2 linked regions of the Homo sapiens genome follow. The protein of the gene in region 1 purifies or fractionates together with the protein of each later gene. This does not show direct contact. Each region holds a gene or a part of one and is shown in the gene's direction. Other genes may lie near its edges.

Region 1 (3,500 bases):
GAGCATTAGGGCCATCATGAACATGTTACAGTGCTGCAGAGATTCTGTTTATGGCCAGTTTGCGGGGGGGGCTTGCTCCCAACATGTATTTTTATGTAGGATGAATGCACTTTACATTTCTCAAGTAGTTACATATTTACAGTAAAGCCATTTGTTGCATGTTTATGCAGTTTATACAGTAAAGCCATCTTTTGTCTGTCAAGCATTATGGATAACATAGTATACGAAACCGACAAGATCTCTGCCCTCATGGAACTTCCCTTCTAGAGCTGTGTCTTCCAGTATGGTGACCAGCAGCCTCCTGGGCCTGTGGAACATTTGAAATGTAGTTAGTCCACATTGAGATGTGCTGTCAGAGTAAAACACATGCTGGGTTTTGAAGGCTCAAGATGAAGAACCGAATGTAAAATACATCGTTGATATTTTTTGATACTGATGACGTGTTGAAATGATAGGCATTTTTAATGTATTGAGTTCAATGAAATATATTATTTTTTGTTTTTGTTTTTCATCACGCAACATGTCCATGTAAGAAATATATTCTTAAAGTTCCTTTGATTAAAACTAGGTAAAGTGAGTTTTCCTATGACTACTAGGAAACTTAAACTCCGTAAGAGGCTCGTATTATGTTTCTGTTGGGCAGTGCTGGTCTGGAGGAAGAGGCATGAACAAGGGAGCCAGTGCACGTGTGAGTGCAGGTTGTGACCAGTGCTATGGAAGAGAAGCACGGTGTTCTCCAGGAGCAATCAACGGGGACTTCAGGCTAAGGGGGTCAGGGAGGCGCTCCCCGAAAACGCACCCTTTAAACGGCACTGGCGAGCATGCAGGCACTGTCCAGGTCGGGTGGAGGAAGGCCGTTTCCACCACAGGGACAGAGGCTCTGAGCTGAAGAAGGGCTAAGTGATTGCTCCGGCTGCTGTTCAGTTGAGCCAGGCCTCTGGTCTCCACTTCAGTGATTGATTGATAGGATGACCACCAGTGAGACGCCAACAGGAAGTGAAGAGGGCTGTGACCGGGTTCCCTGACAGCCTGCCCCATTCAGCTTTCCCCACGATTGCTGCGTACTGGGATGAGAATACCATTTTTAATCTGATAGTTCGTTTAAACTTGTAAAACATTTTCCCTTTCTCCTAGGTATAGCGAAGGAGATACTGAGAAGTTAAAGATGTACCATTCTCTCCTTGGGAATGACTGGAAGACGATTGGTGAGATGGTGGCCCGAAGTAGCCTCTCCGTGGCCCTCAAGTTCTCACAGATCAGCAGTCGTAAGTGGCAGCCCCCAGTGCCCACCTCGCTGAAGAAATAAGCCCTGACAGGCCTGGTTCAGCCATAACCGATCCAATGCCCGGAAATCACCGTAGACCTGTCTTCCGCAAGAGCTTTGTTTCTTAAGCTGTTCTCTATACTAATTTGTTTGGTTTCCTCGTGTGTTTAGTGAAGCCATGTGACCTTTACCCACTAGGCTGGTTTTTACCACACTTCAGTAACTGTCCGTGCAAATATAACTGCCAAGTGGACCAGGACCCCAATAAACTGGTGGTGGGAGAGCCTGGGCGGAGGGTCACTTCCCCGCAGTGGCACGGGACACGTTGGGAGGGAGGCAGGCACGCAGTTCGTGCCCGTCAGGCGGGGACTTTTCTCAGAACCAGTGTTGGTGACCTCCTGTCTGTGTCTCCTCTTTCCTAAAAGGTTTCCTTTCAGAAGACAGTCCTGACCGGGTTTTCTGTTTAGCACAGGGGCTCACACACTCCGGCCACACAGCTAGTGCCTTGCAGCCAGTTCTTCAAGTTTCCAAGAACTAGAGGAAAATCTTAAATTGTTTTTTTTTTTAATTTTGTGAACTCTAGCTATCTTTTTTTCTTTTTTGGAAATCTCTTGATTTTTAAATATTCATCCAAATTGTTATTGAGGGGAAAATGTAACATTCTGTGGCCAGACCAAAAGCACAGCCAAACAGCTGCCAGTGTGACGCTCCTTACTTAGCGTGACCGTGAATGTCTCTAGTGAAGAAGGGTGAACCGTTGATACTTTGGGGCATCCGCCACAGATAACTGGCTTCAGAAATTCTCAGGTGCCTTCATCAAGTACTGTGTTGGTATCAGTGTAGCTATTTATATTGTTACACTATGAACTCTTGGCCAAGAGACATGTACATAACATAAAAGCCATTTGGCTGGCTTTTCTTCCCCCATTAAATGTTTGGGAACCTCACAGTTTGATGCGGGAGACGTTCTCAGAAACAGGATGAACAACTGTTTTGAAATAAATAAATAAAACATTGCTTTAAGAAAGGACTTATTGAATAATTTCAGGCTTTAGTTCTTAAAAAGAATCCATGACCGTGTTAGTAATTTCATTTTAATATGCACATAATTGTGTTTGTTTTATGTCTATATAATTGAGATGCACATTATTTTCTGAAAAGTACCCGATTTATCATTTCATTTTTAATATTGTGTTTGAAAGCAAATAGACTAGCTACTATAAGACCATCTTTTTATATCTACAGAAAGAAATCGTGGTGCTTGGAGTAAGTCTGAAACCCGGAAACTAATCAAGGCTGTCGAAGAAGTGATTCTGAAGAAGATGTCTCCCCAGGAGTTAAAAGAGGTGGATTCCAAACTCCAAGAAAATCCTGAAAGTTGCCTATCAATTGTTCGGGAAAAACTCTACAAGGGCATATCTTGGGTAGAAGTAGAAGCTAAAGTGCAAACCAGAAATTGGATGCAGTGTAAAAGTAAGTGGTAAGTTCTTCCCTCTCTCTTTCTCTGTCTCTCCAGCTTCTGTGGAGAGGTGAGGTTACCAAGAATATCTGTGTAACTGCCGTGGGGAAGCTGACGTGTCAAGAACAATCGTGTCTAGTCTGCTGCCCCAGCTGCTTCCATATCACTCTCTGATTTAAATGAGCACGTAACTAGCCCTGATGCATTGAAGAGTGTATGCTTTTCTCCTAAAGAACTTGAACCTTTTTAAAACTGAATATTGACTTCTGATTTCTTCACTCTTTCTAAGTCTTTAATAAAACAAGGTAGCAATCTGTTGGCAGCATTAGAAAAAAAGGGGCCACGCGCAGTGGCTCATGCGTGTAATCCCAACACTTTGGGAGGCTGAGGCAGGCAGATCACTTGAGGGCAGGAGTTCAAGACCAGCCTGGCCAATGTGGCAAAACCCTGTCTCTACCAAAAATACAAAAATTAGCCAAGTGTGGTGGCTCACAGCCACCAGTAGTCCCAGCTACTCAGGAGGCTGAGGCAGGAGAATCGCTTGAACCCAGGAAGTGGAGGTTGCAGTGAGCTGAGATCGCCCCATTGCACTCCAGCCTGGGCAACAGAGCGAGGCTCTGTCTCAAAAAAATAAAAAATATATAGAGAGAAAAAAGATAGAAAACTAACATACAGAGAGAAATCACAAGTGTAGTGATCAGTAGCAGCTCCACCCTTCTAATGTGCTTTCTGCTTCTGCGGTTCCTCAGATGAAGCGAGGTAGGCATGCTCCTGGCT
Region 2 (3,500 bases), on another chromosome or scaffold:
GTGATCTTGGCTCACTGCAACCTCTGCCTCTCGGGTTCAAGCGATTCTCCTGCCTCAGCCTCCCGAGTAGCTGGTATTTCAGGCACCTGCCACTGCACCCGGCTAGTTTTTTTTTTTATTTTCAGTAGAGATGGGGTTTCACCATATTGCCCAGGCTGGTCTTGAACTCCTGACCTCAGGTGATCCGCCTACCTCAGCCTCCCAAAGAGCTGGGATTACAGGCATGAGCTACTATTCCTGGTCACCCATCCTGATTTTATTTTTAAATTTTAGATTTTATTTTTTAGACACAGAATCTCACCCTGTTGCCCAGGCTGGAGTGCAGTGGCTATTTGCAGGTGTATCATAGTGCACTGCAACCTTGAATTCCTGGGCTCAAGTGCCCCTCTTCAGCCTCCTGAGTGGCTGAGAGTGCAGGTGTGCATTACCGTTGCCTAGCTTTGTATTTATTTTTAAAGACTGTATTACTCCATTCTCTCATTGCTATTAAGAACTACCTGAGACTGGGTAATTTATGAAAAAGAGTGGCTTAATTGACTCACAGTTCTGCAGGCTGTACAGGAAACATGGCTGGGGAGCCCTCAGGGAACTTACAGCGGGAGAACGGGAAGCAGGCACATCTTAGGAGGAAGACTGCATAAGAGGAAATGCTACATACTTTTTTTTTTTTTTGAGCTGAGGTCGCGCCACTGCACTCCAGCCTGGGTGACAGAGTGAGACTCTGTCTCAAAAAAAAAAAAAAAAAATTCCTCTTCCTGGCCGGGCGAGGTGGCTCATGCCTGTAATCCCAGCACTTTGGGAGGCTGAGGTGAGTGGATCACCTGAGGTCAAGAGTTGGAGACCAGCATGGTCAACATGGCGAAACCCTGTCTCTACTAAAAATACAAAAATCAGCTGGGTGTGGTTTAATCCCACACGCCTGTAATCCCAGCTACTCAGGAGGCTGAGGCAGGAGAGTCACTTGAACCTGGGAGGCAGAGGTTGCAGTGAGCCAAGATCGTGCCATTGCACTCCAGCCTGGATGACAGAGTAAGACTCCGTCTCAAAAAAAAAAGCTGTGTAAAAGGAGGGTTTTTTTTGGGTTTCTGCTATAAATCAGTGTCATCCTAATCTGAAATACTGATTCATTCTCATTCTCTCTAGGTAGCAGAGGCTCAACGGGCAGAGTTTAGCCCTGCCCAGTTCTCTGGTCCTAAGAAGATCAACCTGAACCACTTGTTGAATTTCACTTTTGAACCCCGTGGCCAGACGGGTCACTTTGAAGGCAGTGGACATGGTAGCTGGGGAAAGAGGAACAAGTGGGGACATAAGCCTTTTAACAAGGAACTCTTTTTACAGGCCAAGTGAGTATTGCTACCCCTCAGAGGAAAGGGAAAGTAGGACTCTCCGGATAGCTGTGGTGCCTCTGTGAGAGGCTTTTTTTAAGCTATTGTGGGAAAGAAGCAGAAAGGGAATTGGTCTCGTTCTTTTTCTGTTCACCACTGCCCCGCCCTTCCTTTCTTTTACCCACTTTCCAGGTGGATGTTTTTGGTACTTAATATAATGCTTAAATAACTTAGTATCATGATAAGGTAGAAAACATGTTTGGAATTGGACCTAGATTTGAATCTTGTTTCGGCCTTTGACCTTAAGTAACTTAACAGCTTTGAGATTTAGCCTCTCCTTTATAAGGAAGAGGAAAGGTTTTTTTTTTTTTTTTTTTTTTTTTTTTTTTTTTTTTTTTTTTTTTTTTTTTTTTTTTTTTTTGAGATGTAGTCTCGCTCTGCCACCCAGGCTAGAGTGCGGTGGCGTGATCTCGGCTCACTGCAACCTCTGCCTCCCGGGTTTAAGTGATTTTTTTGCCTCAGCCTCCCGAATAGCTGGGACTACAGGTGCATACCACCACCCCCGTCTAATTTTTTTATTTTTATTTTTGATAGAGACGGGGTTTCACCATATTGGCCAGGCTGGTCTCAAACTCCTGACCTCGTGATCCACCTGCCTCGGCCTCCCAAAGTGCTGGGATTACAAGCATGAGCCACCATGCCCAGCCAGGAAGAGGAATTCTTTTTTTTTTTTTTTTTTTGAGACAAAGTCTTGCTCTGTCACCCAGGCTGGAGTGCAGTGGCACGATCTCAGCTCGCTGCAAGCTCCACCTCCCGGAGCTTCATGCCATTCTCCTGCCTCAGCCTCCCGAGTAGCTGGGACTACAGGCGCCCACCCCCTGGCTAATTTTGTTTTTGTATTTTTAGTAGAGATGGTGTTGCACCGTATTAGCCAGGATGGTCTTGATCTCCTGACTTCATGATCCACCCGCCTCGGCCTCCCAAAGTGCTGGGATTACAGGCGTGAGCCACGGCACCCAACCAGGAAGAGAAAATTTCTTAAGAGACAATTGAATGACAAGTTGAAGTGCTTGGCATACATTTGCTCAAATATGATCCCCTTTTGTTTCCTTTTGTGTGGCCCTAGTCATAATTGAAGATTTGACTTTGGATCTAGACTGAAGTAACCGTTTTGTACTTTATATGAACTGATGAACTGGTTTCAAATACTAATGACAGTCTTCTGTTTTTTTTTTTTTTTTGGTGACAGAGTCTCCCTCTGTCGCCCAGGCTGGAGTGTAGTGGCGTGATCTCGGCTCCCTGCAGCTTCTGCCTCTCAGGTTCAAGTGATTCTCCTGCCTTAGCCTCCTAAGTAGCTGGGACTACAGGCGCGTGTCACCATGCCCGGCTAATTTTTTTTGTATTTTTAGTAGAACGGGGTTTCACCGTGTTAGCCAGGATGGTCTTGATCTCCTGACCTCGTGATTCACCTGCCTCGGCCTCCCAAAGTGCTGGGATTACAGGTGTGAGCCACCATGCCTGGCCTAATTTTTCTATTTTTAGTAGAGATGGGGTTTCACCCTGTTGGCCAGGCTGGTCTCTAACTCCTGACCTCAAGTGATCCACCCACCTTGGCCTCCCCAAGTGCTGGGATTACAAGTGTGAGCCACTGTGCCTGGCCGAGAACAGTCTTTTCAACTGCCTTGAAGACTAGCCATTTTCTGGGGTTCTAAGGGGTGAGAGAGGAAATCTGGCTTACTGCTGTTTGATGGAGTCACGGTCTAGGTTAATTTTAGTTCAAGGGATGCCTTTGGGGAATTTGGCTGGACTTGAAGCAGAAGAAAACAGTTCATGGATTTAGACTTCTGCCTGCTGAGTCTTTGGGTTCTTTCCAGAGCTGGAGCTCAGAACTGAGGCTGAGGTCCTAGTGCAGTGCCTCATGAACCAGGGCTGCTAATGGCCTGCATTTGATTTCTAAGTGAATAGATGACAATTTCTGCTGAGGGTTTATTGGTAGATCCTGACAGTCTAGCTTTTTCCTGTCTTTCCTATTTCTAGCTGCCAATTTGTGGTGTCTGAAGACCAAGACTACACAGCTCATTTTGCTGATCCTGATACATTAGTTAACTGGGACTTTGTGGAACAAGTGGTGAGTAGCTCAGCCAAGCCCATAAGCTATGAATGGGAGCACTAAAT

Evidence for each region. Proteins that work in one complex are often made in the same cells at the same time.
Region 2: the proteins of TTF1 (region 1) and RNF10 purify together in Homo sapiens (co-immunoprecipitation; one large-scale study listed by IntAct). This does not show direct contact.

Annotation. Positions count from the first base shown.
Region 1 is NC_000009.12:132,389,841-132,393,340, reverse strand, and holds part of TTF1 (transcription termination factor 1), read left to right. Parts: intron 1-1,134; coding exon 1,135-1,265; intron 1,266-2,509; coding exon 2,510-2,744; intron 2,745-3,500. UniProt on the Homo sapiens protein: Multifunctional nucleolar protein that terminates ribosomal gene transcription, mediates replication fork arrest and regulates RNA polymerase I transcription on chromatin.
Region 2 is NC_000012.12:120,551,356-120,554,855, forward strand, and holds part of RNF10 (E3 ubiquitin-protein ligase RNF10), read left to right. Parts: intron 1-1,143; coding exon 1,144-1,343; intron 1,344-3,362; coding exon 3,363-3,453; intron 3,454-3,500. UniProt on the Homo sapiens protein: E3 ubiquitin-protein ligase that catalyzes monoubiquitination of 40S ribosomal proteins RPS2/us5 and RPS3/us3 in response to ribosome stalling.